Regions from separate parts of the Homo sapiens genome. Here all the other regions are linked to region 7. The links come from fine-mapping of genetic effects on gene expression. A gene starts in region 7. Each other region holds a variant in brackets. All regions are shown on one strand. Distances are from middle to middle.

Region 1 (4,068 bases), 120 kb before region 7:
GGAAACAGGACCCAACACAGGAAAGCAAGCAGTGGAAGGGAATTCCAAGAGGATCATGGCGAAGGGAAGTCCCAGCGGGGCTGCCAAGCAGGGGGCCTAGAAAGCAGCCAGCCCAGGACGGCTGACGACGTAGGAGACGGGTGGAGGCCCGGGTTCTGCTTCTCACTCCCAGACTGCCCTTTTACCTTTATTCAGCTGATATCTAGACCTGGATTGTCTCAGCTGTAACATGGAGATAATAATACCATACCTGATTGTGTGGATAGATTATAGCCAGCCGGTGACTCTTACACAGGATAGCTTACTTAATTCTTATGACAATCCCATAAGGTCAGTCAATGTCATCCCCACTTTACAGATTAGATAACTGAGGCCCTGAATGGTTTGAAGAGCTAATATCTGGCCCGGCACAGTGGCTCACATGTGTCATCCCAGCACTTTGGGAGGCCAAGGTGGGCGGGTTGCTTTGAACCCAGGAGTTCAAGACCAGCCTGGGCAACATGGGGAACCCCTGTTTCTACAAAAAAATACAAAACTTAGCCAGGCGTGGTGGCTCACGGCTGTAGTCCCTGCTACTCGGGAGGCTGAGGCTGAAGAATTGCTTAAGCCCAGGAAGCGGAGATTGCAGTGAGCTGACATCACGCCCCTGTACTCCACCTGGGCGACAGAGAGTGAGACCCTGTCTCAAAAACAAAAGAAGCAGCAGCTAATATCTCTCTTGGGAGGCTCAGAGTCCTTGCCTAGGCAGGCCCACTTGGAGCACTCCACACCATGGAATCCGGACGAAACTAACTTGTCTCAGTTAACAAAAGGGCAGCTGCATAGTTAAATAAAAGGAATCCCTCCTTCTCCTTTATAAAATTTCCTGCAAAAGCAGAAAGCAGAGCAGGGCCTGCATGTTACAGCTGGTACATTGCTCACCACCCTGTGGCTTTGCCAGTTTTTAATACTTCACATATCACTGCAGGTCCTAGTTGCTGTCCAGCTTTCTACAGAGAGTAAAGGTATCAATAAAGGTATCTGTGGCAGTGATTTGATGAGCACCCACCGGTGTAGCAATCACTGGGCTATGCATGAAGGATACTCTGTTTCATTTATTCCTCTTGGCAGCTGTGCAGGATAGTTTGTATCACCATCCTCTTAAGGCACACAGTCACTTACAGGGCCCTTAGCTAGTGAGGGACAGAGTTGGGATTCAAACCCAGGTATTAACACTCCAAACCCAAGTTGTTGTCATTGTGACATTTAAAGGAACCATGGCCTCTTGTCACCTTCTTGACTGATCATAAGGGTTCAAGTTTCAACTTGCACTTTATGGAAGTCGGATTGTTGATCCTATTTCCTGGCAAAGATCAAAGAGAGAGAAAATTTCTTACATGAGCCAAAATTAGCACTCACCATGCCTGGTTTTCCAGGCCAGCGCCGGTGTGGAAGCTGCACAGCCAGAGGAAGGCCCAGTGGCGGCTCCTGCAAAGCTGGGCAAATGGGGAGCGGATTATGGCGGAAGTCTCCTTTTTTGGAATTTTGTGCACCATTCTTCTTCCTGTTTTTGGTCACATCTGGCTTATCTCATATCTTCCAAGCCTTGCTTTTGCTTTCCCT[C/T]GGGCATTTAAAACATTTCAGTTCTGTCTGGCTAAGACTCACAGTGCTACCTCTTGTCCAGAAAGAATAACAATTACCACCTACCTGCTTGGAGGCGTGAAAGAATGTTTATAAAGCAGTTGGAAGATCTCCAGAGAAATGCCAGCTTAATATAAAGCAAGATTTTCTTACTAATGGGTGAGATTCTCACCTGCAGAAGTCTGTGAATTTTCTCTGCGGTGATGCAGGATGAAAGGGAAAACCAGACGGCTCCAGAAATGTGACATGTGTGAAATTAAAGTGCTTATGAAGTCAGCCTAGTTTCAGGGGTTCTTTTCCTCTTCCCCAATGGATGTGAGAATCCTGGAAAGACTCCAAGGGCCACCTCTGTGCTGAGAAGTGGCTTTCTAATGAAAGGCTGCATTTCAGGGCAGGTTTCTGAAAGGTTTGTTACAGATATGTAGTCTCTGTCTCCAGTGTTAGAGGATTGTTAGTGAAAGATGTCCTCACGGTCTGCAGAACCCGCTCCACATGAAGATCAGCATCCATTGAAAGCAGGAGCCAATGGGTGCTGAGGAGAGGACAGAGTTGCAGCATGAGATCTGAGGTGACCCTGGGCTAAGGAGTTTTCCCTCACCCATGTTGATAGAGGAAATGGAAAGCTCTACCAAGCAACGTGTGTATCCATCATCTTTTTTTTTTTTTTTTTTTTTGAGACGGAGTCTCGTTCTGTTGTCCAGGCTGGAGTGCAGTGGCACAATCTCAGCTCTCTGCAAGCTCTGCCTCCCAGGTTCATGCCATTCTCCTGCCTCAGCCTCACATGTAGCTGGGACTACAGGTGCCCACCGCCATGCCCGGCTAGTTTTTGGTATTTTTAGTAGAGATGGGGTTTCACCACGTTAGCCAGGATGGTCTCGATCTCCTGACCTCGTGATCCACCCGCCTTGGCCTCCCAAAGTGCAGGGATTACAGGCGTGAGCCACCGCGCCCGGCCTTTTTTTTTTTTTTTTTCCCAAACACAGATGATGTGAGTTAGAAGCCTTTTTTTTTTTTTTTTTTTTTGAGACGGAGTCTCGCTCTGTCGCCCAGGCTGGAGCGCAGTGGTGCAGTCTTGGCTCACTGCAGCCTCTGCCTCTCGCGTTCAAGCGATCCTTCTGCCTCAGCCTCCCGAGTAGCTGGGACTACAGGCACGTGCCACCATGCCCAGCTAATTTTTATATTTTTAGCAGAGACGGAGTTTGACTGTATTGGCCAGGCTGGTCTTGAATTCCTGACCTCGTGATCTGCCCACCTCGGCCTCCCAAAGTGCTAGGATTGCAGGCATGAGCCACCATGCCTGGCCAACTTTTTTTGTTTGTTTGTTTGAAACAGAGTCTCACTGTGTCGCCCAAGCTAGAGTGCAGTGGCACGATCTTGGCTCACTGCAGCCTCCGCCTCCCGGGTTCCAGCTATTCTTGTGCCTCAGCCTCCCAAGTAGCTGGGATTATAGGCGCGAGCCACCACACCCAGCTAAGTTTTGTATTTTTAGTACAGACGGGGTTTCTCCATGTTGGCCAGGCTGGTCTCGAACTCCTGACCTCAAGTGATCCACCCGCCTGGGTCTCCCAAAGTACTGGGATTACAGGTGTGAGCCACCACCTGTAATACCAAAGTACTGGGATTACAGGTGTGAGCCACCACGCCTGGTCAGAAGACATTATAGCTAACCTTACTAGGGAGGTAGTAAGGTTCTGTTGGGACAAGCAGTAGTTTGTGGCTTTCTCATATGTGCTGCACCTGGCAGAGGGGCATCCTGGCTTGGCTGCATTGGTACTAGTACAGCAGGACTCTGCCCAGTGCTGTCAGGCTTAGGTTAAGTGTGAGCTGATTGTCCATATTAGTAAGGCTTGTCTCGTCACTCAATATAGACATCTTGCTACCAGAGGTCCTCACCCTCAGTACTTCCATAGACTTTCTCCTAACTTCTTGTATTGCAAATGTCTTAGATTCTTAAATGTCTTACTTTGTTTTTTAATTAAACAAGAGCAATGATCATAGTATCATCTTTTTGGGAGGAAGATTTAAGTCACTGTTTTAGACATAAACTAATGAACTATGCTGAAATCTAGAGACATCCCCAGTGGCTTGGGGTACGTGGGAATATCCGCCCTTGGATTAGTCCTGGACTATTATTAGGTGTCCGTTTCTGACATTTGCTTTTTAATATTCTGACACTTTTTCTATTGGTTGCCCTTTTTCCTGCTGTCAGTGCTTGGGTGCCTCTAAGGTCTCTGTTTCACGATGCTGCGAGCTGAAGAGCAAGGTGACTTGGCTTGTTAGACTTGGGTGCAAATTAGGAGTCCATAGGCTTCGCTTGAGGAGGGCTTGAGGGCTAGGGCTTTGAGTGAGGAGGGGAGAGAGAGTACCTTGATGGACTTGCTGACAGTCGCTTTGGGCCCCTAGAAACCTCTGCCATTTAGATTTTGGCATGGCCTCATTTATAGTTGG
Region 2 (4,068 bases), 57 kb after region 7:
GTAAAAGCATTTTTGATGTTCTTCTAGCTCACTTTTAATCATTTTTATGTTACAGCAAACTTGCATTTAATATACTTTTTTCAACTGTTTACTTTCTCCCAATAGATACAGTTTTGCCAAACTTATGTTGTTTATATGTATTCCTGGCTTTAACACTGGTGGATTTTATTCTTGACTCAGTTTCTACATACCTTGGTTGCTGGCAGTCCTAATCTTGCAAACAGTTAAATATTTTCTAGAGTCTGTTAGTGCTATGCTAAGTTTGTAATGTGTTCTCTTTAGTTGATGCATTTGGCAGCAGAAAGCTTAAGGATACCTTGTGGCTTGCATCACACTGATGGCAGCTGGTGGCGTGTCTTAGGGAGGGATATGTCAGGGCAGCAGCCACCCTGACCTCAGTTAGGCTTGAATCCTGGGCAATGGTGAACGTGGGTTTGGAAAAGGAGATGGTCTCTCCTTGACTGCTGAAGAATTGCTGCTGTGACTAGAGGAAAGCTAGCCATGTAAGAGGCCTTTCTTCCCCTTCTACTCTTGAAAAAAGCCTTCTGCGTGCTATCGACGAGAAAAATCAGCCTTTGTTTTGGGAAGTTAGGTAGTCACCTTCCAGAGATTTCTTTTGTTACCCTACTTGTGTCACAGAAGTGCTGTGGTCTGCTATTCACGGGCACACCGTAGGAGACCTCTGAGTTGAGGCTGGACATGAAGGAACACCAACTGCAGTAAGAGGAATTCTTGCTCTCTAGGAGAAAGATTACGTAGATGACAGGTATCGGTGGAGACTGCACACTAACCATTATATTTGGGAAGAAATTAATCTTCACTTTCTATCTTGTACCAAAAACCATAAGAAAACTCAAAACAGAATTTTTTAAAAAGATAAATTTTTATCAAATTTAGCATAAGGAAAAAACACTTCCTAAGTATAAGAGCAGTGGAGGAAGCCACAGAGGAAAAACAGGTTTATGAAATAAAATAGGCTGCGAAAAAACTGAAGAAGAAAATGATGTGTTAAGGAAAATATCTGCAAAATGTGGCAGACAAGAGAGTAATGTCTTTAGTGTAGAAATCAATAAGAAAAATACCAACTCCAATAGAAAATGTAGGCAAAGGACAGGAATAGATAAAAGGCGAAATTTAACAGCAAATACATATTTGAAAATGTGTGAAAACTTATCAAAAAATGCCAATTAAAACAAGGTATTTTGATTTTTTGACTCAGAAAAGCAATATGAAGCAGTAATACTTACAGCTGACACGCATGAAATAAGATTGGAACTCTTACATTCCTGGTGAGAGAATAGCTTGTGATCCTCTGGAAAGCTGTGTGGCAATATGCGCCAAGGGACGGCCCACGTGTAGAAATTCAACCTAAGGAAATATTCAGATACGCAGCCAGATGTGTGTGCGGAGATTTCTGTGTATTGCTTTTTTTTTTTTTTTTTTTTTTTTTTTTTTTTTTTGACAGTTTCACACTCTTGCCTAGGCTGGAATGAAGTGATACGGTCTCGGCTCACTGTAACCTCCACCTCCCAGGTTCAAATGATTCTCCTGCTTCAGCCTCCCGAGTAGCTGGGATTATAGGCGCTCGCCACCACGCCTGGCTAATTTTTGTATTTTTAGTAGAGACAGGGTTTCCCCATGTTGGTCAGGCTGGTCTTGAACTCCTGACCTCAGGTGATCCACCTGCCTCGGCCTCCCAAAGTGCTAGGATTTCAGGCATGAGCAACCGCACCTGGCCGTGTATTGCTATTTATATATAACAGTAGATTACAAGCTGTACAGTACGG[A/T]AACATCATGTGGTCACCCTACAACTAAATTTCATTTTTTTGCAAACTATTTATGGACACAGAAAAGCTCATAATATGTTATGTGAGCCAGGCGTGGTGGCTCATGCCTGTAATCCCAACACTGGAGGCCAGGCCAGGAGTTTGAGACCAGCCTGGGCAACAGAGTGAGACTCTGTCTCAATAACAACAAAGTTTGCCTAGTGTGGTGTTGCGTGCCTGTAGTCCCAGTACTTAGGAAGCTGAGGTGTGGGAGGGTCGCTTGGCCCCAGGAGTTCAAGGTTACAGTGAGCTGTGATCACACTACACTCCAGCCTAGGTGATGGAGCGAGAACCTGTCTCTAAAACAATTTGTAGAGAAAAGCAAAATATGAAGTCTTCAGTGTGAATATAATCTTCAGTGCAAACTCATTTTTTTAAAAGTGTATGTATCTTCATGAAAAGACCGGAAAGATATACATCCAAATGCCAACAGTGGTTTTCTGGGTGGTAGGAACATTGGTGACTTTTTTCCTTTATACTGTACTTACATGTGGTTAGCAAATGGTAAACAATGACCCTTGTAATACTTCAGTGAGAGCCTATCTAGAAAATACTCCTTTGCAATAATAGTAGTATTCGTGGGTGCCATTTGTTTAGACTGAGTGCTTGCTTTGTGAAGGCACACTGCTCTCAGTGCTGTAAACTCTTAGCTGTTTTGATTTTCAGTCCTAGGAGGGAGACCTTATTATCTTCATTTTCCCAATGAGGTACAGAAAGTCTAAGTATTTATCTGCGGTTCTGTGGCGAGGAGTGACAAAGCCAGGATTTGAACCTAGGCCGTCTCACCCAACAGGGTGGGCTCTTTAATTTCTTTACAAATTCAACCTAATTGATGTAATAACCATCTGGATACTAGTGACGAAAAGACAAGAGTACTTACGGTGCCCCTAGTTAGAGCCTTTGAAGTCTTGTTTTATGAAGAACTATACATTTTAATTCATAAGGAGAAAACCTTCTCTTTGTGTCCTTGGTGTTAAACAATCCCCCCAGTGACATCATGAATAACAGGCATTTGCAGAAGTGTGTTCACCTGAATTGTCACTTATAATAAATATGCATCTGGTGAGGACTCATGTTTCTCTTGAGCAGATGAGAATCCCAAGCAGCACATTCCCCTGGAGGAGTACGCTGCGAACCTAAAGAGCATGGTGCAGTACCTGAAGTCCGTGGACATCCCTGAGAATCGAGTCATTCTCATCACGCCGACCCCACTTTGTGAAACAGCCTGGGAAGAACAGTGCATCATACAAGGTAAACAAACCACAGCCAATCTCGGCAAATCTGGATAGGAATGCTGAGGGAGGAACTCTGATAGGACAGTGGTTTCCTGCCTGGGGCTTCTGTTTCTTAGGGGCTCGGTATGTCCATTTCAGTCTGTTTTCAATCCAAAATTATTAAATTATAGCTTCCATTATGTTATACCTGAGACCTTTTTTGACCTAGAAAAGGGATTCTGGCTTTGGATAGTCAGGAGGGAACCGCGGGCCTGGCATCTGCTGACCTTTACAGTTACCAGACTCCAGGGTGCACATGAAGGCCACTGAGATCTGTGTAGAGCTGTGGTGCTCGGCCTGCGGGGGCTGATGCTGATGTGCCTTGACTTGGAAGTCCACACCTGGGGCTTTTTACTGGTCCACAGAAGCTGGGGGTAGGAATGATCAGATAGGAGTCGCCAGCACTCCATATACTTGGGTTTCACATCCCTCAAGTGCTGTGTTTTCAATCCACCTTTGACTGAAAAACCTCTGCACATAAGTGGACCTTCACGGTTCAAACCTGTGTTGTTCAAGGGTCAGCTGTATGTTAATGTTGAAAATGTGCATTATGGAAGTTCTCTTTTTTTTTTTTTTTTGGAGATAGAGTCTGGCTCTGTCAGCCAGGCTGGAGTGCAGTGGCACGATCTCGGCTCACTGCAACCTTTGCCTCCTGGGCTCAAGCAATTCTGCCTCAGCCTCCTGAGTAGCTGGGATTATGGGTGTGCACCACCACGCCCGGCTAATTTTTGCATTTTTAGTAGAGACGGGTTTCACCATGTTGGCCAGGCTGGTCTCGAACTCCTGACCTCAGGTAATCTGCCCGACTCAGCCTCCCAAAGTGCTGGGATTACAGGCGTGAGCCACCGTTCCTGGACTGGAAGTTTTCTAAGCTGCCCAGAACTCAACATTCTAGGACAAATGACTGGCTTTGCAACACAGAACAGCTATTTCTCAAAGTGTGGTCTGACTCTGAGTTAACTGGGATT
Region 3 (4,068 bases), 69 kb after region 7:
TAGGTGAGGCTCACTCAACCTAAGTGACTAAAAAATACTAGGTTGGTGCAAAAGTAATTAATGCCATTACTTTTAATGGCAAAAACAGTAATTACTAGCTTTCAAGCATCCTGAAAACTTACTTACCATTTGAAGACCCAAAAGAGGATTCAAACCTCTCAAGGTAAGATCCCAAGAGAGAAATTGAACTCAAAATATTAACTAAGTGTTGAATGGCTAAATCACTCCTTATGGCTTGGGAAGGGGACAGCACAGCTCTTTAAATGTCCATCCATGCAACTAATCGAAGTTCACCATCACTGTTGTCAGAAGGGTAAACATTCCAACCTAGACCCTTCCTGCTGCAACATGACCTTCCATCAGCCAGTGAAAGCTCTTGCTGGGTCAGGTGAAGGTCTTTGCCTAACAGGGCCTCAGACCAGGCGAAGATTATGTTTCTTTCATATGGTATACTTACACTGGGGTGAAACAGAGACAGAGATTCATACTGTTTATCCAATTTCTTATCCTAGAAAGAAACAGCAAGAAGGTCATTCCCTACAAATACAATTCAGTTAGTGAGTACTATTTCATCACAGGCTATTCCTAACACTAACTGAAGAACTTAGAACCTGAGTTGTAGAAAGTGATAGCAGGCTCAACAGATGACAATCCATTTCTCACCCAAGCTTTAGTTATGCCACCAGTCTAGAAGTGTTTCCTTTGCACTCAAAGGAAATACATTTTGGCGTTAAGTACAGAAAGAGGCAAGGTTTAAGTGCTATGTTTTCTGAGAAATTTATCCCTCTGTGGGCAGGGGAATAATAAAGGCATCTTCCTGTGCATGAAATGACAAATGTCCCAGATGCTGGGTACACCAGGACCGCACTGACTGGAAGGGCAACTGGTAGGAAGACCCAGGTGGCTGGGCCTGCAGCATTCTTCGCACTGCCCCGGCCCATGGCCTCACTCTCTTAGCTGTCTCCACAGTTTCTGTGGACCATGCTCTGCTGGAGGAACTGGGCCTCAATCCCTACATCCTACTTCTGCAGAAGGCTAACCACATGGCCATCTGCTGCCCCATCCCTGCCTGTGGCTGAAGCATAATAGGTGACAGAGGGCAAGGACCAAGAATCCAGGACTAGGCTTCCTGTCTGGGTGCCATCAATGCATTCTATGACCAAAAACAAGCCATGGCCCTCCCTCCTATCGGAGGCTTTGCTCTGAAATCAAGGGTCGTGCCTTGTCCACATGTGCAACTTCCCTGTAAACAAAATAGGTTCCATCCTCCAATAGAAGCAATCGTGATGGATGGCACTGTCATCCAGAGACATCTGTCAAAGCTTCAAGCACGTCACCTTCAGCTTTCTTCAGCACAAGTGCTCCCTAGAGATCTTCCTATACCCATCATGCTCACCACCCTGAGGAAGAGCTGCTCTGTGAGATGGCCCCTAGGCAGGAGAAGCCAGCAGGAAAGGAAAGGAAGGAGGCAGTAGGAAAAACTCCTTTGTCATCAGAGTTGTGCTGGAATTTTTAAATGCTCATAGGAAGGCCACTATGAAAGAGTTTGGGAAAACAAGTCTGGAAGCCTGGGTGTGACTTTCTCATCTCTACAGCAGACAAATCCCCATTCCCCACAGATGCAAGTGAATGGATTCGTAAGAACATTTATGAAAAAGGGCCTCAAATTTATAAAGGACCAGGAGTTCCTTAGTCAAAGCCCAATTCAACTTGTAGCTGTTACTGATTCTGAATGAGAACAGAAAAGACTGCTTACTCTTATTTTTTGGGGAAGATGTAAATACTCTATATGACAGCTGGGCCCCAGTCCCTACATCCTATTTGTGCAGAAGGCTGAAGACATAGCCATCTGCTGCCAATAATCTACATGATATATGGGGAACATCTGAAATGCCGATGTTTGATATTTGCTCTATTGCAACGAAGTCAGCCTGAAAATGCTCTTCAATAAGGGCTTTACTCATCAAAGGACCTGGACAAATCCAGTTAAACAGTCTCCTATGCTTAAAAGTATAAAATTCCTAAGAAATTTATATATTAAAACACCAACACACAAAAATAGTATTTTTTTTAAAAGACCATTAGTTAAGCTTTCTACAAGACATGTTCCCCTAGGAATAACAACAAAAAAAGCTATTGGAAATATCAGGCCAAACTTTGCTAAGAACAAGTTTTACCTTTTCCAGAGATTACATGGTTGGAGTTGATCAAAATTTAAATAAAACATTTAATTACTTAAAAGTTGATGACTTACCACACAATGGACAAGAATGCTGAAAGGAATCCAAAATATCAAGGAGAAAACCAGGACAGACCCAACGATGTTGTCTGCTAAAAACTTTCCTGTGAACAATTCCAAACAGTTAATGTC[T/C]TGACCAAGTACTTCACAAATCTAAAGTGAAATGCTCTTAGGATATTACCATTGTGTCAAATGCCAGAGCTGCTGGCTAGACATACTACCGAGAGCAGAATGTCTGTGCTGCCTGTATTACACCACACCATCTCTCCATACCAAGTGCTTTTAAAGAAATAGCCCTCATATACTGGCTGACAGGAAGAGATTGCAGAATATTCAACATGTTACCTGGAGTAGCTGTGTCAACAGATTAATATGGAATGCTACTACTAGTAAATGCTTAAGAAGACAAAGTTTTTGTTACCTGGATATTATTTTTGTGATTAAATTATGGACTCGTGACAACATGATATACCCTGCTTCTGCAAAATATGAGGCTCACTTTTACATCAAGCAGGATTCAGTATATAGCATTCAGTCAAATAAACACTCTTACATCAATCAGGATTCAGTCTATAGCATTAAACTATGCTTATGCTAATCACATGGATATTTTTGGGTAAAGAAGGAAGCCAGTATTTTGACTTTATTTCCCTTGTCAGAAAATCTGTGCATCCAAGCTCCACGGGGACAGACTATCTATGAGTTCATTTTATTCTAGCCAACAAAGTTGTTTCATAACTAAAGCTGTGAATAGTTCCACCTTCTACTGCAGAATTAAAGCACATCACTCTGAAAGCACACTTTTCTAATGTCATCACAGAAATTGACTCAGCTCTCAGTAAGTAATCTGGGGAAATCACCTACCAAAAGTATTGATGCTCAGCTGGTCAATGAAATCCCAAAATCGTTCAATTACATCCTGTACTCGTTTCTCACATTTGCCCTATGAAGAAAAAACATACATACAGCATCATTCCCAAACACAATGTATTCAGAAGCAATGTAGCTTTATAAAAATAACTGACATGTAAAGGGCTTCATTAAAATCAAACGTTTTCCCATCTTTGACACAAGGCAATAACTTCCGCGTAATGAGTACCCAAGAAAGTAGAACATCTGTCATTAACACTTTCATAATTACTCCATTTTTACAAGTGATTTAGAATTACCAGGAGACAAAAATCAAGGAAACCAGTTTGCTAAAGATGAGGCATTCCAGTAAGGACTCTACACATACACAGTGGACAGTGAACAACACAGCCAGACTCCCTGTGAAGCCTCGTAAATCTTAAAACCCTCTCCCATCATTCTGCATGAGAAAAATTATGCTTCTCTAGAGAACAAAAGGGTCTGGCTTAAGTAAGTCAAGCAGCCTTCTAGGTCTTTCCTACTCATTCAGCACCTGTTTCAAAATCACACCCTGAATAATTTTGCAATCTTAGTCAGTTCTGTAAGTAATCTAGGAAAACATAATTAGGACCCACTGCCTGAAACCAACCAACTTTACCATAAAGTCCCCACCCCAGTCCTTCTCAGTCTCTGGGCTCAAAGCCTCCCACCACAGAAGGAAACTACAGGCAGGGACCTGAAAGCACTCCGTCTTCTCCTCCTAAGTAATACCCGTAGATAACAATGGGCCAGAAGGATGTAGCCCCACTTGTGTTTTGATTTGTTTTCATCTGCAAAATCAAGTACTTACAAAATAAAAACTTCCTATCTGGCTGTTACAGAAAAAGCTGTACATAAATACTCACATTCATGTCACAAAATCCTACTGTACAGGGCTTTCCTTTCCTCAAAAATAAGTTCTTTTGTTCAGCATCGACATA
Region 4 (4,068 bases), 41 kb after region 7:
GTGCTTAGGAAACATCAGTGAACAAAGCAAACAGATCTGCCCCCTCCAAGGATCTGACATTCTGGCATGTCCCAGGGCTTCCTGATAGGGTTTGGAGTTGGGCAGATCCCATAGGGTCTTGTTGGCTATTGTAAGGACCTCAGACTTTCAGTGTGAGTAAAATGAGGCTATGCTGCAGAGCTTTGAGCGGGGCTGAGACAGGATCTGACGGAGTTTTTAAAGGACTGCCGTGGTGCTTGCTGAAAGTACTGTTAGGAGGGCAAGCAAGAAAGCAGAGGCTCCAGCTGGGAGCTTCTTCAGTCATCCAGGTGGCAGACAGTGGCTCAGATTAGGGTGGAAGTCATGGGGATATCGCAAAGTGCTGGATTCTGGAGGTGTTCTAATAAAGCCAGCAGTATTTCCTGTTGGATTAGCTGTAAGTGGTGACAGAAAGAGAACAGACAGGATGAACTTTAAGATAATGATCCAGGGTATGTATGTGATATGTCAGCATGGACAGTTGTCACTCGTGGGGCTAAGTGACAGGTTTTAATAAGTAGCACTTGCTCCTTTCAAAGGTGACAAGTATTGCAAGAACTGGTACATGTGACACTTATGCTGCTCATGAGGAAGTTGATTCTGTATATTTATTATTTATCGAACTGACTTCTTCCTATCCAAACTTGGGATTTTCACATTTAGAGCAGAGTCAGCGACTGTGGCCCACAAGCCACACCTAGCCCGCCTGCTTTGGTAAGTATAGTGTTACCGAAACACAGCCGTGCGCACTGGTTCATCATCTCTGATGCCTCTTTCCTGCTACAGCAGCAGAACTGAGTCATTGCAACAGCGACCCTGTGGTTTACAAAGCCTAGAATGCCATCTGGCCATTTACAGAAAAAGTTGCCCTCTTCTCAAGGCACCTCTGTGAAACAATCCGATTCTTCCTTGATGGCATTTTTCTCCCTTTTCATTTCTTAGCCTCCTGACACTTCAGTCCAGATTCTGGAAACACAACTTGTATTTGTATCTGTGGTGTATGTGTGTGTGTGTGTGTGTGTGTCTAACCAACCACAATTTATGTGTCCCCATTCTTAACCAAAGGGGAAATCTTATATATTTTCAAAATACATTATTTTGTTTTTATATTCCATAACATTCTTCTATTTTACATGGCACCTGTTTTCAGCATGTGTGTGTCCTGTTTTGACACACAGACCTACTAAGGACAGGTATACCTGTCTGATTGTATAGTTCTGTGTTTAATATGATCTCGTGTCTGATGAGTTTGTCTAAATATTAATGCAGGAATTTGCAAATATATATATACATATATATACACACGTAAACTTTGGAAAGTTTCTTTTGATAGTTTCATAGCCTAGATATTTATTTTGTAATATATTTTGTGAGATTGTTTTTACATGTCAATTAAGTGCTTATTTTAGTAATTAATGAAACTAATGATTATAATTAAAGTATAAAATTCTGTTATATAGTTTTCTTGGCTAGCACCTGGTTAGTTTTTTGTTTTTGTGTTTTTTTAATATTTTTATTTTTATTTTACTTTATTTTATTTTTTGAGACAGGGTCTCACTGTGTCGCAGACTTGAGTACAGTGGTGCAATCTCAGCTCACTGCAGCCTCGACCTCCTGGGCTCAAGTGGTCCTCCCACCTCAGCCCCCACAAGTAGCTGGGACTATAGACGCACATCACCACGCCTGGCTAATTTTTCTATTTTTATAGAGACAGGGTTTCACCATGTGGCCTAGGCTAGTCTCAAATGCCTGAGCTCAAGAGATCTGCCCACCTTGGCCTCCCAGAGTGCTAGGATTCCAGGTGTGAGCCACTGCACCTGGGCTTACTATTTTTTTTTAATGGAGATGGGGTCTTGCTATGTTGCCAAGGCTGGTCTCCAACTCCTGGGCTCAAGCAGTCTTCCCTTCTCAGCCTCCCAAAGTGCTGGGATTACAGGCGAGTAGTTAGTTGTATATACAATTGAAATTCACGAATTAAAAAGAATTAGATGAAGTATGGTTTGAATTCTAGAATAGTTTAGGAGAAATGACAAGTTGAGTCTTTTCCGTAGAGTAGATTGAAATAGGTATGTGGGAGTGCAGAAGTGAGTTAATAAAGCTACACTTACATGATACAATATTTTAAAAAGTCATAGTGTTACATGAGAAAGTAATTACTTGGGCTGGGAAATTGAAAGTGCATTGAAGAAATCATAATTTTTGAAGTCTCTTTGAAATGACAGAGTCTTAGCCAGGCACGGTAGCACACACGTACAGGCCTAGCTACTTGAGAGGCTGAGATGAGAGGATCACTTGAGCCCAGGAGTTCAAGGTTACAGTGAGCTATGATTGCACCACCGCACTCCAGCCTGGGCAACAGAGCGAGACATTGTTTCTAAGGGAAAAAAAGAAGAAAGAAATTACAGTCTTATATTATATTTTCCTGTTTATAGGTGAGGCCATAAGATTATTTCTGGTATTTTCCCCCATATCATACACACACACACACACACACACGC[G/A]CGCGCGTTTATATATAAAAAATATATAAAAGAGGAAATTGGTTATGTATATTTATTATTTATCAAACTGACTTCTTCCCATCCAAACTTGAGATTTTCACATTTGGGCCAGCCCAGCTTTCAACTCTTAAGGCCCCCCATCCTTCTAAGAGCTCAGCTGGCCTTCACTTCCTATCTTAGTCTGTTCAATCCCAATCAAATGCCACCAAGGTTGCCTTCTCTTCATTATATTCTGATAGCCCTTTTGTAAAGTGAAGTCTGTTATGAACATGAAATGAAATGATGACAATATCCATATATATGGGGTGTGTGTGTGTGTGTTGTCTGAAGGATTTTAAAATTCTGCACTACTCTTTGTAACAGCATTATTGATACATAATTCACATACCATACAATTCATCCATATAAAGTGTAGAATTCAATGATTTTTTAGCATATTCAGAGTTGTACAACCATCACCACAATCAACTTTAAAACATTTACATCACACCAGGCCAGACATGGTGGCTCACACCTGTAATCCCAGCACTTTGGGAGGCACAGGGGAGCAGATTGCTTGAACCCAGGAGTTTGAGACCAACTTGGGCAACATGCTAAAACCCTGTCTCTACACGCACACACACACGCGCTCACACACACACGCGCACACACGCACGCACACACACACGTGCGCGCACGCACGCGCACACACGCACACAAAGACGCACGCACACACGTGCGCACACAGACGCATGCACACGCACACTGACGCACGCACACAGACGCACGCACACACGCGCGCGCGCGCACACACACACGCACACACCCACGCACTCGCACACACGCGCACACACACGCACGCGCACACACGCACACGCGCACACACGCGCACACACACAAAATTAGCTGGGCATGGTGATGCATGCATGTAGTCCCAGCTACCTGGGAGGCTGAGGTGAGAGGATCACCAGAGCACAGAGGTGAAGGCTACAGTGAGCCGTGATCATACCACTACAGTCCATCCTGGGCAACAGTGCAAGACCCTGTCTCTAAATAAATAAATAAATAAATGCACACCTCCGAAAAGGAACCCCATATCCCTTACGTATGATGCCCCAATCTCTATATTCTCACCAACTCAAAGCAACCACTAATCTACTTCCTGCCTCCCTGGATTTGCCTGTTCTCAGCGTTTCAGATAAATGGAATCATACAATATATAGCCTTTGATGACTGGTTTCCTTCACTATGCTGTGTTCAAGTTTCATCCGTGTTGTCACATAAATTGGTACTTCCTTCCTTTTTATGGCCAAATAATTTCCCATTGTATGGACACAACACATTTTGTTTATCCATTCATCTGTTAATGGATACTTCGGTTGTTTCTATTTTATGGGTTTTATGAATAGTGCTACCGTGGAGATTTGGATGTAAGTTTTTCTGCAGACATATGTTTTCATTTCTCTTGGATCTGTACCTAGGAGTAGAATTACTAGGTCAAATGCTCACTGTTTAACTTTCTGAGGAAGTGCCAGACTGTGAGCTCTGCACTCTTTTGCTACTGTTGATGCAC
Region 5 (4,068 bases), 140 kb after region 7:
TTTCCCAAGGCAGTTTGTTTTGCAATCTTTTGCATGATTTTAGCTCTGTATAGTTTAGTGAATGTTTATGGTACTGAATAAAACAGTCTAAAAACGTTGGGTACATGTTGCTGTTTTATTTAGTTCAACCAAAGTTTATAAAAGTAGGACATAATACGTTTTCCACTTAAGAGTGAGACAGCCTTTATTATGAAACGGTAAATTGTTAGGAATACTAGTCCTATTCAAGTTTCAAGGCTTATTCCTAATAAAATACTCAAACTGTGGTTAAAATTTATGTTAATGGTGGTTTGCCGCAGTAAAATATCAGCGTCTTTTTCAACAATACATTGTTGGCTAAAATTAACCGGACCTGGTCTGTACATCTGAAGTATAAAATATCTTTATTAAACATACCCATTAGTGGCATACCTAGTCAAAAAGTAAGCAGAATTTCACATGCAAATTGTATACAATCTGTAAAAATTGTATTCCATAAGAATGTGACAGTTGAGTACGGTTTTTGGGGGGCTTTTTTGGTGTACCATAATAATGTCATCTGGTTTCTTTTCTGAACATCCAGTCACCATAATGTCCGGCTTGTAACTTTAGTAGATCGTAGATTGTATTATTTTGGTATCCCCAACAGCTCTTGTACAGTGCCTTGCTCATAGAAGGTACTTAGCTGTTTAGTAAATGCCGTTTAAAAAAAAAATCCCGATCCATTTTCTTTTCTTTTTTTTGGGGGGGGGTGGTGGGGGAAAGAGTTTCGCTCTTATTGCCCAGGCTGGAGTGCAATGGCGTGATCTTGGCCCACTACAACCGACTGAACACCTCCTAGGTTTAAGCGATTCTCCTGTCTCAGCCTCCCAAGTAACTGGGATTACAGGCGCCCGCCACCACGCCCAGCTAATTTTTGTATTTTTAGTAGAGATGGCATTTCACCACGTTGGCCAGGCTGGTCTCAAACTCCTGACCTTAGGTGATCCACCCGCCTCGGCCTCCCAAAGTGCCAGGATTATAAGCGTGAGCCACCGCGCCTGGCCTGAATAACCAGAAGTCCTAGATTTCCAGGGACATTCCAAATTTCAAGTAATCTTTTCAATTCACAAATCAGGACCCAAATTATTCCAATTTGCAGTTCATCTTTCATTTATCAATTGTGCATACTTTTAAGATAAAAGAGCACCACGTGGGGGAGATAAAGAGCCAAAGGAATATGGTAAGAGGGGCACTGGATAGATTAATTAGTTTATCTTTTTTTTTTTTTTTTTTTTTTTTTGAGACGGAGTCTTGCTCTGTTGCCAGGCTGGAGTGCAGTGGCATGATCTTGGCTCACTGCAGCTTCTGCCTCCCAGGTTCAAGGGATTCTCCTGCCTCAGCCTCCCAAGTAGGTGGGACTACAGTTGTGCGCCACCATGCCCAGCTAATTTTTGTATTTTCAGTAGAGACAGGGTTTCACCATGTTGGCCAGACTGGTCTGGATCTCCTGACCTCGTGATCTGCCCGCCTTGGCCTCCAAAGTGCTGGGATTACAGGCATGAGCCACCGCGCCCGGCTCTTTTATCTTTTGAGACGGTCTGGCTCTGCAGCCAAGGATGGAGTACCGTGACACAATCACAGCTCACTGCAGTCTCGACCTCCTGGGCTCAAGCAATCCTCCAGCCTCACCCTCCTCAGTAGCTGGGACCACAGGCATGCACCACCACACCTGGCTAATCTTTACATTTTTTTTATAGAAGTGGAGTCTCGCTATGTTCCTCAGGCTGATCTCAAACTCCTGGCCTCCCAGAGTGCTGGGATTACAGGTATGAGCCACTGCACTCAGCACCAAAATAATTTTTTAAAACTATATACCCCCTGGCCAGACGTGGTGGCTCACACCTGTAATCCCAGCACTTTGGGAGGCCGAGGCAGGCGGATCACGAGGTCAGGAGATCAAGACCATCCTGGCTAACACGGTGAAACCCCGTCTCTACTAAAAATACAAAAAATTAGCCAGCGCAGTGGCACGTGCCTGTAGTCCAAGCTACTTGGGAGGCTGAGGCAGGAGAATCACTTGAACCCTGGAGGTGGGGGTTGCAATGAGCCGAGATA[G/C]CGCCACTGCACTCCAGCCTGGGCGACAGAGGGAGACTCCATCTCAAAAAAAAAAACAACTATATACCCCCTAGGTGTATCTTTAAAGTTTTTCATCATTAGCGTAGTAGTAGCAAATTATGAAACTTTCAGCATAAATACTGACATTTAAAATTAAAGCTGTTAGGTCATTATTTTAAAGTTTTCCAATAGAGTATAAATACCTCAAAGATTTGACAGCCACAGTGGTAGCCCAGCCTCCAAGATGGCCCCCAATGATGCCTGCTTCCTCTTCTACACTGGGCCATAGTTGGTCTGTGACCACTAGCATGCAGCCGAAGTGATGTCACTTCTGAGGTTAGGACACAAGAAACTCTGTCCTCCATCTCAGGTGCTCTCTTGCTTGCTTGTTTCCTCTTGAATCACACACTCTGGGGGAAGCCAGCTTTCATGTCATGAGAACACTCAGGAAAACTATGGAGAGGTCCAATAGAACAGGTCAGCAGCCAACAAACACCAAGGAGCTGCCAAAGACTATGTGAGTGAGCTTGGAAGGAATTCAGCCCCAGGCAAGCTTTAAGATCACTGCAGCCCCTGACCTACCATCTGACTATAACTAAGCTACTCCCAGATTCCTCAGCCTCAGAAGCTGGGAGATAAGTGTTCGTGGTTCTAAAGCTCCTAAATTAGGGGTAATTTGTTACACAGCCACTATCATCTGTTCAAAAAAATACGTAAACAAGTTGATGGGATCCTGGGTTCTTAACACCTGAAGTGATGCTTTTAATTTAGGATTTAATAAAGATAATTAAAAATATTTCCTGAGGTTCCCCAATCCCATGCTGTGGAATTAATTATTCATAATTTAGATACCGCAAGTGAATTTAAGAGTAAACATTTGCAGTTATTAAACACATGAGCCACATATGGTTCTGCAGTTAACTACCAAACCCACACAAGTACCAGTAAAACCTTGTCTAAATGACCAGAGAACTAACTGGTTCTGGCTGGGTGTTTTGTTTCCTTCTATCTATTTCTCTAGCTCTATTTCTCTTATTAGCCAATTTTGTCTTACACCAACCCCACCAGTTTTTATAGATGGATAGAGCCATCCTCACTGTTTCTAAAATGGTAATTATTCCTGCATTTGTATGCTTTTTTGCTGATGAACAAATCTGTGGAAAGCAGTCGCTTTAAGTATGAGTCAACCCACAAATAAGACAACAGATGCCACTTAATGAAAAATAGGACTTTATACAAAGTCATGTGCCAAGAACTCTAATTTCTAAGGTTTTGGTTAAGAAATTTTAACCCATTTTAGAAAAAATCAACCTTTTTTTTTTTTTTTTTTTTGAGACGGAGTCTTGCTCTGTCGCCAGGCTGGAGTGCAGTGGCGCGATCTCAGCTCACTGCAACCTCCGCCTCCCGGGTTCAAGTGATTCTCCTGCCTCAGCCTCCCGAGTAGCTGGGACTACAGGCATGCGCCACCACGCCCAGCTAATTTTTGTATTTTTAGTAGAGACGGGGTTTCACCATATTGTCCAGGATGGTTTCAATCTCTTGACCTCATGATCCGCCCACCTCGGCCTCCCAAAGTGCTGGGATTACAGGCATAAGCCACCGTGCCCGGGCAAAATCAACCTTTTAGAAAAATGACAAATATGCATGGGACAAAGCAGAGACATCTGCAGATCCTCACTGATGAACAGATGATTTTGGGGGGAATTTTTTTTAATTGTTATAAAGTCTCCTTTCTTTCTTTTTTTTTTTTAGAGACAGGGTTTCACCATGTTGCCCAGGTTGGTCTCGAATTCCTGGGCTCAAGCGATCCACCCACCTCGGCCTCCTAAGGTGCTAGGATTACAGGTGTGAGCCACCACATCCCACTGATATGAACCACCATTGTGTGCAGAAGTATCATACATCCTACATATTGTATGCCACATAAAATATGGAGCTGTGTCTGTTCTTTTCCTTCTTAAATCCCTGCCTCTCTCCCTTGAGATCTCGGGG
Region 6 (4,068 bases), 130 kb after region 7:
AGCTCACTCTTCACTGCTCTGCTGCATGAAGTACGAAAAGTTCCCCCAAAATGACACTATCAATGTCATGCTCCTACTTCTGATATCAGAAATGGAAAACATAAAGCCAGTACTGCTGTGAAGTGTTTATTGTGTTTGTGCTGAAGACACAGGAGCCTTCCTCTTCAGCACCCCCCAAAACACACAGGACAGGGAAGCAGGCCACGTGTAGTAAGTGTCAGGTGCGGGTTGTTGGGACTAAGGAATGAGAAAAAGGGAGCAGTGCTCTCTGCTAGGCCAGGGACCCCAGAGCCTGGGAACTAAACAATTTTATGGATTTATACCAGTAAAGGAGGATAGAGTATGAGCTGCTTCAACTAATTCCCTATCAAGAGCTCCTCAACAGACCTGGGACGTAACCTGAGCCAAGACTCTCCAGCAAGACCAGTAACCAGGATGCAAGTTTCAGGTTAGGCAATGAGACTACTTCCACAATTACCAGCAGCCCTGCCTAGTCCTAGGCTAAACCTGTATCCGATACTCATTCTTTTTTTTTTTTTTTTTTTTTTTTGAGATGGAGTCTCACTCTGCTGCCCAGGCTGCACTGCAGTGGCTCAACCTTGGCACACTGCAACCTCTGCCTCCCGGGTTCAAGCAATTCTCCTGCCTCAGTCTCCCCAGTAGCTGGGATTACAGGCACGCACCACCACGCCTGGCTAATTTTTGTATTTTTAGTAGAGACAGGTTTCACCATGTTGGTCAAGCTGGTCTTGAACTCCTGGCCTCAAGTCATCCGCCGGCCTCAGCCTCCCAAAGTGCTGGGACTATAGGTGTAAGCCACTGTGTCCAGCTACTCATTCTTGTAATCAAAAGAATAGGTAACTGGCTGGGGCAGTGGTTCACGTCTGTAATCCCAGCACTTTGGGAGGCTGAGGCAGGTGGATCACCAGAGGTCAGGAGTTCAACACAGGCCTGTCCAATATGATGAAACCCCATCTCTACTAAAAATACAAAAAAAAAAAAAAAAAAAAAATTAGCCAGGCGTGGTGGGGGACACCTGTAATCCCAGCTATTCGTGAGGCTGAGGCACGAGAATCACTTGAACCTGGGAAGTGGAGGTTGCAGTAAGCCAAGATTGCGCCACTGCGCTCCAGCCTGGGTGACAGTGAGACTCTGTCTCAAAAAAAAAAAAAAGGTAACTAATTTTGGACATGTTATATTTGAAGTGCCAAATGGGCAGCTGAATATGAACTCCAGAGAACAAGTCCAGGTCAGAGATACACGTCTAGTCATTAGCAGAACACTGTCAAATGAAGTGAAACCAGTACAACTCATGTAACAACAAAGAAAAAAAAAAAAGGAAGGGGGGGAACGGAGAGATGCCCATTTCCTTGGCTGATTTTAGGAGTAAATAAAGAGATACAGATTGAGCATCCCTTATCCAAAATGCTTGAGACCAGAAGTGTTTCATTCATCAGAATTTTTTAAATTTTGAAATATTTGCATATACATAATGAGGTATCTTGGGGATGGGACCCAAGTCTAAATATAAAATTCATTTATGTTTCATTTATTCACTTACTTTGAGATGGAGTCTTGCTCTGTCGCCCAGGCTGGAGTGCAGTGGCGCGATCTCGGCTCACTGCAAGCTCCACCTCCCAGGTTCACACCATTCTCCTGCCTCAGCCTCCCGAGTAGCTGGGACTACAGGCGCCTGCTACCACACCTGGCTAATTTTTTGTATTTTTAGTACAGACAGGGTTTCACCATGTTAGCCAGGATGGTCTCGATCTCCTGACCTCGTGATCCACCCAGCTCGGCCTCCCAAAGTGCTGGGATTACAGGCATGAGCCACCGCGCCTGGCCTAAACAATATTTTTAAGTAACTTTTTTTGCATGAAAAAAAGTTTGTGTACAACGAAGCATTCGAAAGCAAAGGTGTCACTGTCTCGGCCACCCACATAAATAATCTGTGGTTGTCTGGCATCACCATCATTCCTGACTGATTTTACATGCTACAATAAGTAATC[G/A]TTTTGTTATACCTATTCACACATAAGTACTACACAGTAAAAAATATACCACTAACAGTGAAAAAATCGTGTGTTAGGGGTAATGTGTGCTGTCATGCCAGCATTCAAAAAGTTTCAAATTTTGGAGCATTTCAGATTAGGGATGCTCAACCCATATATGAAAAGCCTTTCATTTCACTTCCGTTACCTCAATGAAGCCCATTCCTGTCCTCCTTTCCTATCAATCTTTTTCAGACTTTCTTCACATTACACTTCCAGCTGTATACACTTATTATCTCACAAATAGAAAATGGTGAAGGATCCAAAAATCAACCACAATTGGCCTTGGAGGAAACCTATATTTAATGTTCTAGGAAATCCTGTGAAAGTCAAAAGGATCTCTCCAGTTTCCCCATCACAATTATCTGCTTAATTCCTCTCCATTCTACTCTTGAAATATGGTTTATCTCTTAGACTAATATAAAGCAGAGTTACATTAAATCTCCCTTGGAGCAGTTAGGGCAGTTAAGCATTTAGGTTTCAAAGGAATGCAGCCAGTAAGCAAAATTAACATCAAAAGAGAAAGCCAGATGTCAAAATACTGAGTAAAATGGTGCTGTCAATAATGAAATCAGCACTGCAATATGGAGAATCCCCATGCCAATAACCTCAAGGTAAATTTGAAAATACATGTTTCAGATACAAACTTTCTCATCCCTCATCTGTGACCTATATTTTTTCCTCCCACCCACTACATCCTCTTTTATTAAAAGTAACACAAAGGGAAAACGATTTTGAAATCAAAGTGAGACTTATACACCCCAGCTGCAACTTCAACAAGATATCATCATGACTAAGCTCATATGACTCATAACTTTCCTAAATTATGCAATTCATAACAGTTCAATTGAAATCATTTTTGGTGACCCATAGAGGACTCTAAAAACCAGGCTTCATTTTATTAGGTATTTTTTGCCTTTCAGAAAAATGTTGTCATATGCCTAATCGATATTGAGTACTGCAATATAGTAGTATTTGTAGGACAATAAACATAAAAAATAAATAATAAAGCATGTTTTTCAACTATGAAACTATTTGCTAGTCTTGACCAACTCAATCTAATGGTAAGGTTAAGTAACAAATTATATTGTAAGCTGTCAAACAAACTGAAAAAAAAAGTCATTCTTCAAAAGAAAAATACCCACAAGGCCTATGTTCATCATTGACAACTGACAGCATCTTCCTGAGACTCATTTTCCTCCTCCTTTATTTGAAAACTAGACTTGATCTCTAAGATTCATTTGGTGATAACACTTGCTATAACGTACTCTAGCACTCTCCTCTATGCTGTTTTAGAAGTGTCCTAAATGAATGTCTATTTCCCTATGCTATAACCATTTGAAGATGGATATCGTCTGATCTTTGTATTTCCAATGCCACGTATAATACTTGTGTGTCCTTCAAATATTTCGTTTAAAAAAAAAAAAAGAGGCCGGGCCTGGTGGCTCAAGCCTTTAATCCCAGCACTTTGGGAGGCCGAGGTGTGCTGATCACCTGAGGTCAGGAGTTCGAGACCAGCCTGAATAACATGGAGAAACCCCATCTCTACTAAAAATACAAAAAATTAGCCGGACGTGGTGGCACATGCCTGTAATCCCAGCTACTTGGGAGGCTGAGGCAGGAGAATTGCTTGAACCCGGGAGGCGGAGGTTGTGGTGAGCTGAGATGACGCCATTGCACTCCAGCCTGGGCAACAAGAGCAAAACACTGCCTCAAAAAAAAAAAAAAAGAAAGAAAAAGAAAAGAAAAGAAAAAAGAAAAGTCTATGCATTCTTCTGGCACAGGTGGTCTGCATTTTGCAAATAAAAAACAAACACATGGGCCAGGAGCGGTGGTTCATGCCTGTAATCCCAGCACTTAGGGAGGCCCAGGTGGGCGGATCACGAGGTCAAGAGTTCTAGACCAGCCTGGCCAACATGGTGAAACCCCGTCTCTACTAGGAATACAAAAATTAGCTGGGCGTGGTGGCACATGCCTGTAATCCCAGCTACTCAGGAGGCTAAGGCAGGTGAACTGCTTG
Region 7 (4,054 bases):
CTGCACTCCAGCCTGGACGAAAGAGCGAGACTCCGTCTCAAAAAAAAAAAAAAAAAATTATTCATGCATCAAAATGAGGCCAATGATCCTGATTGGCGATTGGATGCTCCGCAGGCTCATCAAATGCAAAGATGTCTCAAGCTGAACCCATCATCCTCCCCTCCAGATCTGCTCCTCTCCTCTCCTCTCCCTGTCAGGAGATTCTATTATTGCTGGAGGAAGCCAGAAAATCATGATTTCCTTGCTGTCCTTCAGGCCCCACATCCAATCTGGCACCAAGACCCACTGTATACCCCACCTGAAGAGCTCTCTGAGCCAGCTCTCCACCAGGGCCCCCGTCATCCTAAACCATGGGCACAGACACTATTTTTTTAGAAACTGATGAATGTGATGGATCCTCACCCTATAAAAATGCACATCCATACAAAGTTTGGCATGAATTTAAGGAATTCACAAACCCAAGGATATTTCGTGGATAAGGGACCTTGTCCTACTGGATTCCCTAACACTTTAAATCTACCCCCACACTGCAGCCAAAACGATTAAAATGATTTCTTTCAAACATGAATCTAATGCCACTAGCCTGCTGAAAATCTTTCACTGGTTCTCCAAAGTCAGAGACCAAAGTCAACGTTCTTCAGCACGACACGCCAGGTCCTCCAGGACCCAGCTCCTAATCACCTTTCCACTTCCATCCTCCACAACCCGGGCACAGTTCATTGATCTCAGCAAGGCAAAGCTGCTCCTGGTTCTCAGCGCGATGCTCCACGCGCCCCTGCTTTGCACCGCCCGGGACGTCCTTCACCTGTCAGGCACTTGGCTACTTCTTACCTTTCAAGGCCCGTTTCAGGCTGCAGGCCTTCCTGGGATCTCAAGGCTGGGGTAAGGGACCCACAGCTTGAGTGTACCCCCTGATCACAGCGCCACGATCTGCTGTGGTCTCTGATCTCACTCTCCCAGCTGCACGCTGGTCAAAGGCGGAGCTCGGTGACTCCTCTGCATTGCCAGGGCGCCTGGCAGGGGACGCGCTTACTGAAGCCGAGAACTTTCTGGGGAGGTGACACCCCAACAGCGATTCCCATGTACCAAACGCCTACCACGTGCCATGCACGGTGCTAGGTGCACAGATCCCTCTCACCCTCACCCTCACCGACCAGCAAGGCTGCAGGATAACAGCCCCTTTCAAACGAGGATGCCAAAGCGCCCGAAGAGTCAGTGACCTGCCCAGGGTCACCAGAGTAAGGACGGATGCGGCCAAGCTCGGGGCCTAGGGAGAGCCGGCTCCGAAGTTCCTCCCAGACGCCAGCCTGCTTGGCACCTGTCTGTCACCGTGATGGAGCACCTTCCAAGCGCTGGGTGCGGAGGATGTGACAGCGAAGGGGACAGACAACCCCGACCCTGAGAGGCGGGAGGCGGCCGAAGCGGGGCAGAGGAAGAGGCAAGGAAACGGCCCGCGGCCGCCCGCCTTGCCGCCCCTCCGGGGCGACAGCGGCTCGGGAAGCTGCAGTCCGCAAGCCCACGCCCGATCTGCGTGGTTCCAAGCTCCTCCACCCGCGCCCCGGGAGCGCGGCCCCGCCCGGAACCAAGCCCGAGCCCAGGCATCCCTCCTCCGCCCGCCCCGCGGCCCCACCCATCCTTCCTGGCCGTCCGCGCCGCTCTCGGGACCGTGTTCCCGTCAGGCCTCCGCGAGCTCGGCCCCAAGCGGGACGAGGGCTGGGCGCTCACCTCGCAGCCGCGGGCCCATCCCCGGGTTGCGGACTTCGGGGTCCGCGTGGGAGTGCCGCGGCCTTTGGCGCCCAGGCAGCTACTCCCGTTCCCGCTCCAGCGCCGGCTTTTCCAGCCCTCCTGCCCACGTCCGCCGGGCCGCGCCTCCAAGACTATGCGCAGGCGCAGTCCTGACGTCCTACCCCCGGTTCCAAGACCCCAAGTGGTGGGAAGCCTCGCGAGCGGCGTCCCCCGACCGGAAGTCGAGGGGAGGAGTCTAGTGCCGCGGGCTCCGGAGTGACGGAAGTTGTGCTCTTGGTGAATGGGGTTCTTCCTTTTTTATTTACCGGTGGCTGTGCTTCCAATTTAGGAAGACCCCGGCGACCTGTTCCTCACCCCCGCTTCGCCCTCACACTTTCGGGATGTCTGCGATTCCTGCTGAGGAGAGCGACCAGCTGCTGATCCGACCCCTGTAAGGGACCAGCGAGAGAGGGAATGAAGCCACGGGCTGTGAGGGGCGCGAGGGGTAACCGGAGACTGGCCTCCTCCGTCGCCCGCGCTCCCACCTACCCCGGCAGCCTGCCTTTGGTCCGCGCTTGCGGGCCAGGCTTCTCAGGCTCGAGGGGTTGGAGGACCGTTGATCGGAAGGGGCCTGCTATAGAGTGAACGGGATTTTGCTTTTTCATCAGTTTCAGGGGAGGGTATGTTGGAGTCGGAAAAAAAAAAGTTTTACGGGGCCACCGCTCGCTTTCGTACACGCTAAGAAGCGTTTTCACTTAGCACAAGCACGGATCTCTGCGCGTCAGGGCAAGCTGTGAGGGAGCCGGTGAAGCTTATGACCGACAGGATGAGAGGAGGACCTGAATGAGGCTACAGCCGTGCAGGGAAGAATTAAGTCTGTTTCTTAACACCAGGGCTTCACATGTGCCAGAAGTTAGAAAATATTAGGGACTTGCCGTGAGTTTCGATCTTCTCAGCTCAGGCCCTAGTAGAATAAGGAAGGTGTAAAGCTGGAGAAGAGAAAGTGCAGAGGTGTTAGGGACAAAAACTCAGCCCTCGACTGTCCATAAGGAGAGTGGCCTTTCAGTGGACACGATCCTCATCAGTCGGGAATGCTGCTGAAGGGGAGATGCAAATGTAGAGAACTTGAATTCCTACAGATGAGCATTTCGAACCCACAACATGTTTATTGTTAGATACTAGTTGGCACAACATGAATATACGCTTTCCAAAAGGTAGAAAGTATCTCCTTTACACAATCATTCAGTAAGGCTTCATTGAGCACCTGCTTGGGACATAGTCCGTTTCCTTCTGCTTAGTTCACACCTGTCATGTCTTCCTGTGATGAGCAAACACTGAGCAAGTGTCAAGCACCACACATGGGGATATAGACGCAACAGAGGGCCCAGTTAATTGCTCTCGCTCTTTTGGAGAGAATTACAGTGCACAGTGGGAAATATTGGAGAGATACTTTGGAATAATAGGAGACTATTACTTTGAAGTCAGACCTGAAGTCCATTATCTACTTGACCAATTAGTAGGACAACAATCTCACTGAACCCGTTTTCTCATATGGAAATAAGATAAAACTTGAAGAGTGAACATCGCGGTAGGTGCTTTGTAAATAATAGCTAATCTAAGAACGCAGGCAGGCATTGCACTGAGCACTGTGAAAGTATGGAAAAGGGATTTCTGACAGATTGAGGAAAAAAGGATACCTCGTGGATCCTGAAAAATGTGATGCCTGAGCTGAGTCCTAAAGAATGAGTAGGAGTTAAAGACTGGGGGGCCCAGGATGTTCTAGGCAGTGGAAGTGGCACATATGAAAGTGAGAGTGGTCACAGCTTGTGGCCAGATTCCTCATGGCTGTAGCTAAAGAGTTGAGTTAGCAGATGAAGCGACAGGCAGTTGAGGTCCAGTTTAGGAAGCACCTCGTATACACAGGAGTTTGGACCTTTATCAAGTCAATTACAGGGAGCCAGCGAAGGCTATTAAGCAAGCATGGATATTGTGGGAATTATGTTTTAGGAAAATCTCTCCTGGCAGCAGTGTAGCAGATGAATAAAAGCATGGATGAATAAAAGCATGGATTGAGTAGAGCAGATTCAGTGAGATATTGAAAGATTCTAAGTCTAGCTGACGAGAGCCTGTAGTGAGTGATGTGAGTGTGAGAGAGTATGCAAATGAGATCTTCAGGATTTTGTGGCTGATCAGCTGTATCTGGAAGGGTGGTTGTGGGGAGGGAAGGCAGGGCAGAGAGGATGTTATGATCAGATTCCTAAGTTTGGCAGTTGGGAAAGGGTAGTGTTATTCACTCAAGGAGTATAAGAGATGGGGCAACTCTGGAGTA

Which allele goes with the higher level. Alleles are on the strand shown, and positions count from the first base shown. SD is a standard deviation of normalised expression in the study named. Not every link is listed here.
For the expression in pituitary of the gene that starts at base 1,881 in region 7, allele A in region 4 goes with a lower level than allele G (moderate effect, 0.41 SD a copy in GTEx).

Evidence for each region. PIP is the estimated chance that this variant, and not a neighbour inherited with it, causes the effect.
Region 1: its variant is fine-mapped to the expression of ITGB1BP1 in whole blood (INTERVAL, PIP 0.98).
Region 2: its variant is fine-mapped to the expression of ITGB1BP1 in whole blood (TOPMed, PIP 0.95).
Region 3: its variant is fine-mapped to the expression of ITGB1BP1 in whole blood (TOPMed, PIP above 0.99).
Region 4: its variant is fine-mapped to the expression of ITGB1BP1 in pituitary (GTEx, PIP 0.93).
Region 5: its variant is fine-mapped to the expression of ITGB1BP1 in blood mononuclear cells (TOPMed, PIP 0.96).
Region 6: its variant is fine-mapped to the expression of ITGB1BP1 in whole blood (TOPMed, PIP 0.94).

The regions. Positions count from the first base shown.
Region 1 is chr2:9,299,548-9,303,615 of GRCh38, forward strand. The region is part of intron 3 of ASAP2 (ArfGAP with SH3 domain, ankyrin repeat and PH domain 2); the gene reads left to right. Among named protein-coding and RNA genes, the nearest start is that of ASAP2, 95 kb to the left of the region's middle. RefSeq lists an enhancer at 105-604. The variant C/T (reference allele first, on the strand shown) is at 1,603.
Region 2 is chr2:9,478,371-9,482,438 of GRCh38, forward strand. It overlaps IAH1 (isoamyl acetate hydrolyzing esterase 1 (putative)), which reads left to right. Exons shown (of 6, transcript NM_001039613.3): 4 at 2,916-3,077. Among named protein-coding and RNA genes, the nearest start is that of IAH1, 5.9 kb to the left of the region's middle. The variant A/T (reference allele first, on the strand shown) is at 1,788.
Region 3 is chr2:9,490,644-9,494,711 of GRCh38, forward strand. It overlaps ADAM17 (ADAM metallopeptidase domain 17), which reads right to left. Exons shown (of 19, transcript NM_003183.6): 15 at 3,994-4,068; 16 at 3,104-3,182; 17 at 2,255-2,343; 18 at 458-508. It also overlaps a transcript of IAH1 not described here. Among named protein-coding and RNA genes, the nearest start is that of IAH1, 18 kb to the left of the region's middle. The variant T/C (reference allele first, on the strand shown) is at 2,372.
Region 4 is chr2:9,463,051-9,467,118 of GRCh38, forward strand. The region is part of intron 15 of CPSF3 (cleavage and polyadenylation specific factor 3); the gene reads left to right. Among named protein-coding and RNA genes, the nearest start is that of IAH1, 9.5 kb to the right of the region's middle. The variant G/A (reference allele first, on the strand shown) is at 2,517.
Region 5 is chr2:9,556,673-9,560,740 of GRCh38, forward strand. No RefSeq gene overlaps it. Among named protein-coding and RNA genes, the nearest start is that of ADAM17, 2.9 kb to the left of the region's middle. RefSeq lists a silencer at 1-82. The variant G/C (reference allele first, on the strand shown) is at 2,077.
Region 6 is chr2:9,549,914-9,553,981 of GRCh38, forward strand. The region is part of intron 1 of ADAM17 (ADAM metallopeptidase domain 17); the gene reads right to left. Among named protein-coding and RNA genes, the nearest start is that of ADAM17, 3.9 kb to the right of the region's middle. The variant G/A (reference allele first, on the strand shown) is at 2,010.
Region 7 is chr2:9,421,648-9,425,701 of GRCh38, forward strand. It overlaps ITGB1BP1 (integrin subunit beta 1 binding protein 1), which reads right to left and starts at 1,881. Exons shown (of 7, transcript NM_004763.5): 1 at 1,726-1,881. It overlaps CPSF3 (cleavage and polyadenylation specific factor 3), which reads left to right and starts at 2,007. Exons shown (of 18, transcript NM_016207.4): 1 at 2,007-2,176. The coding sequence starts at 2,127. RefSeq lists enhancers at 332-1,190, 1,184-1,233, 2,104-2,153, 2,194-2,243 and a silencer at 1,374-1,673.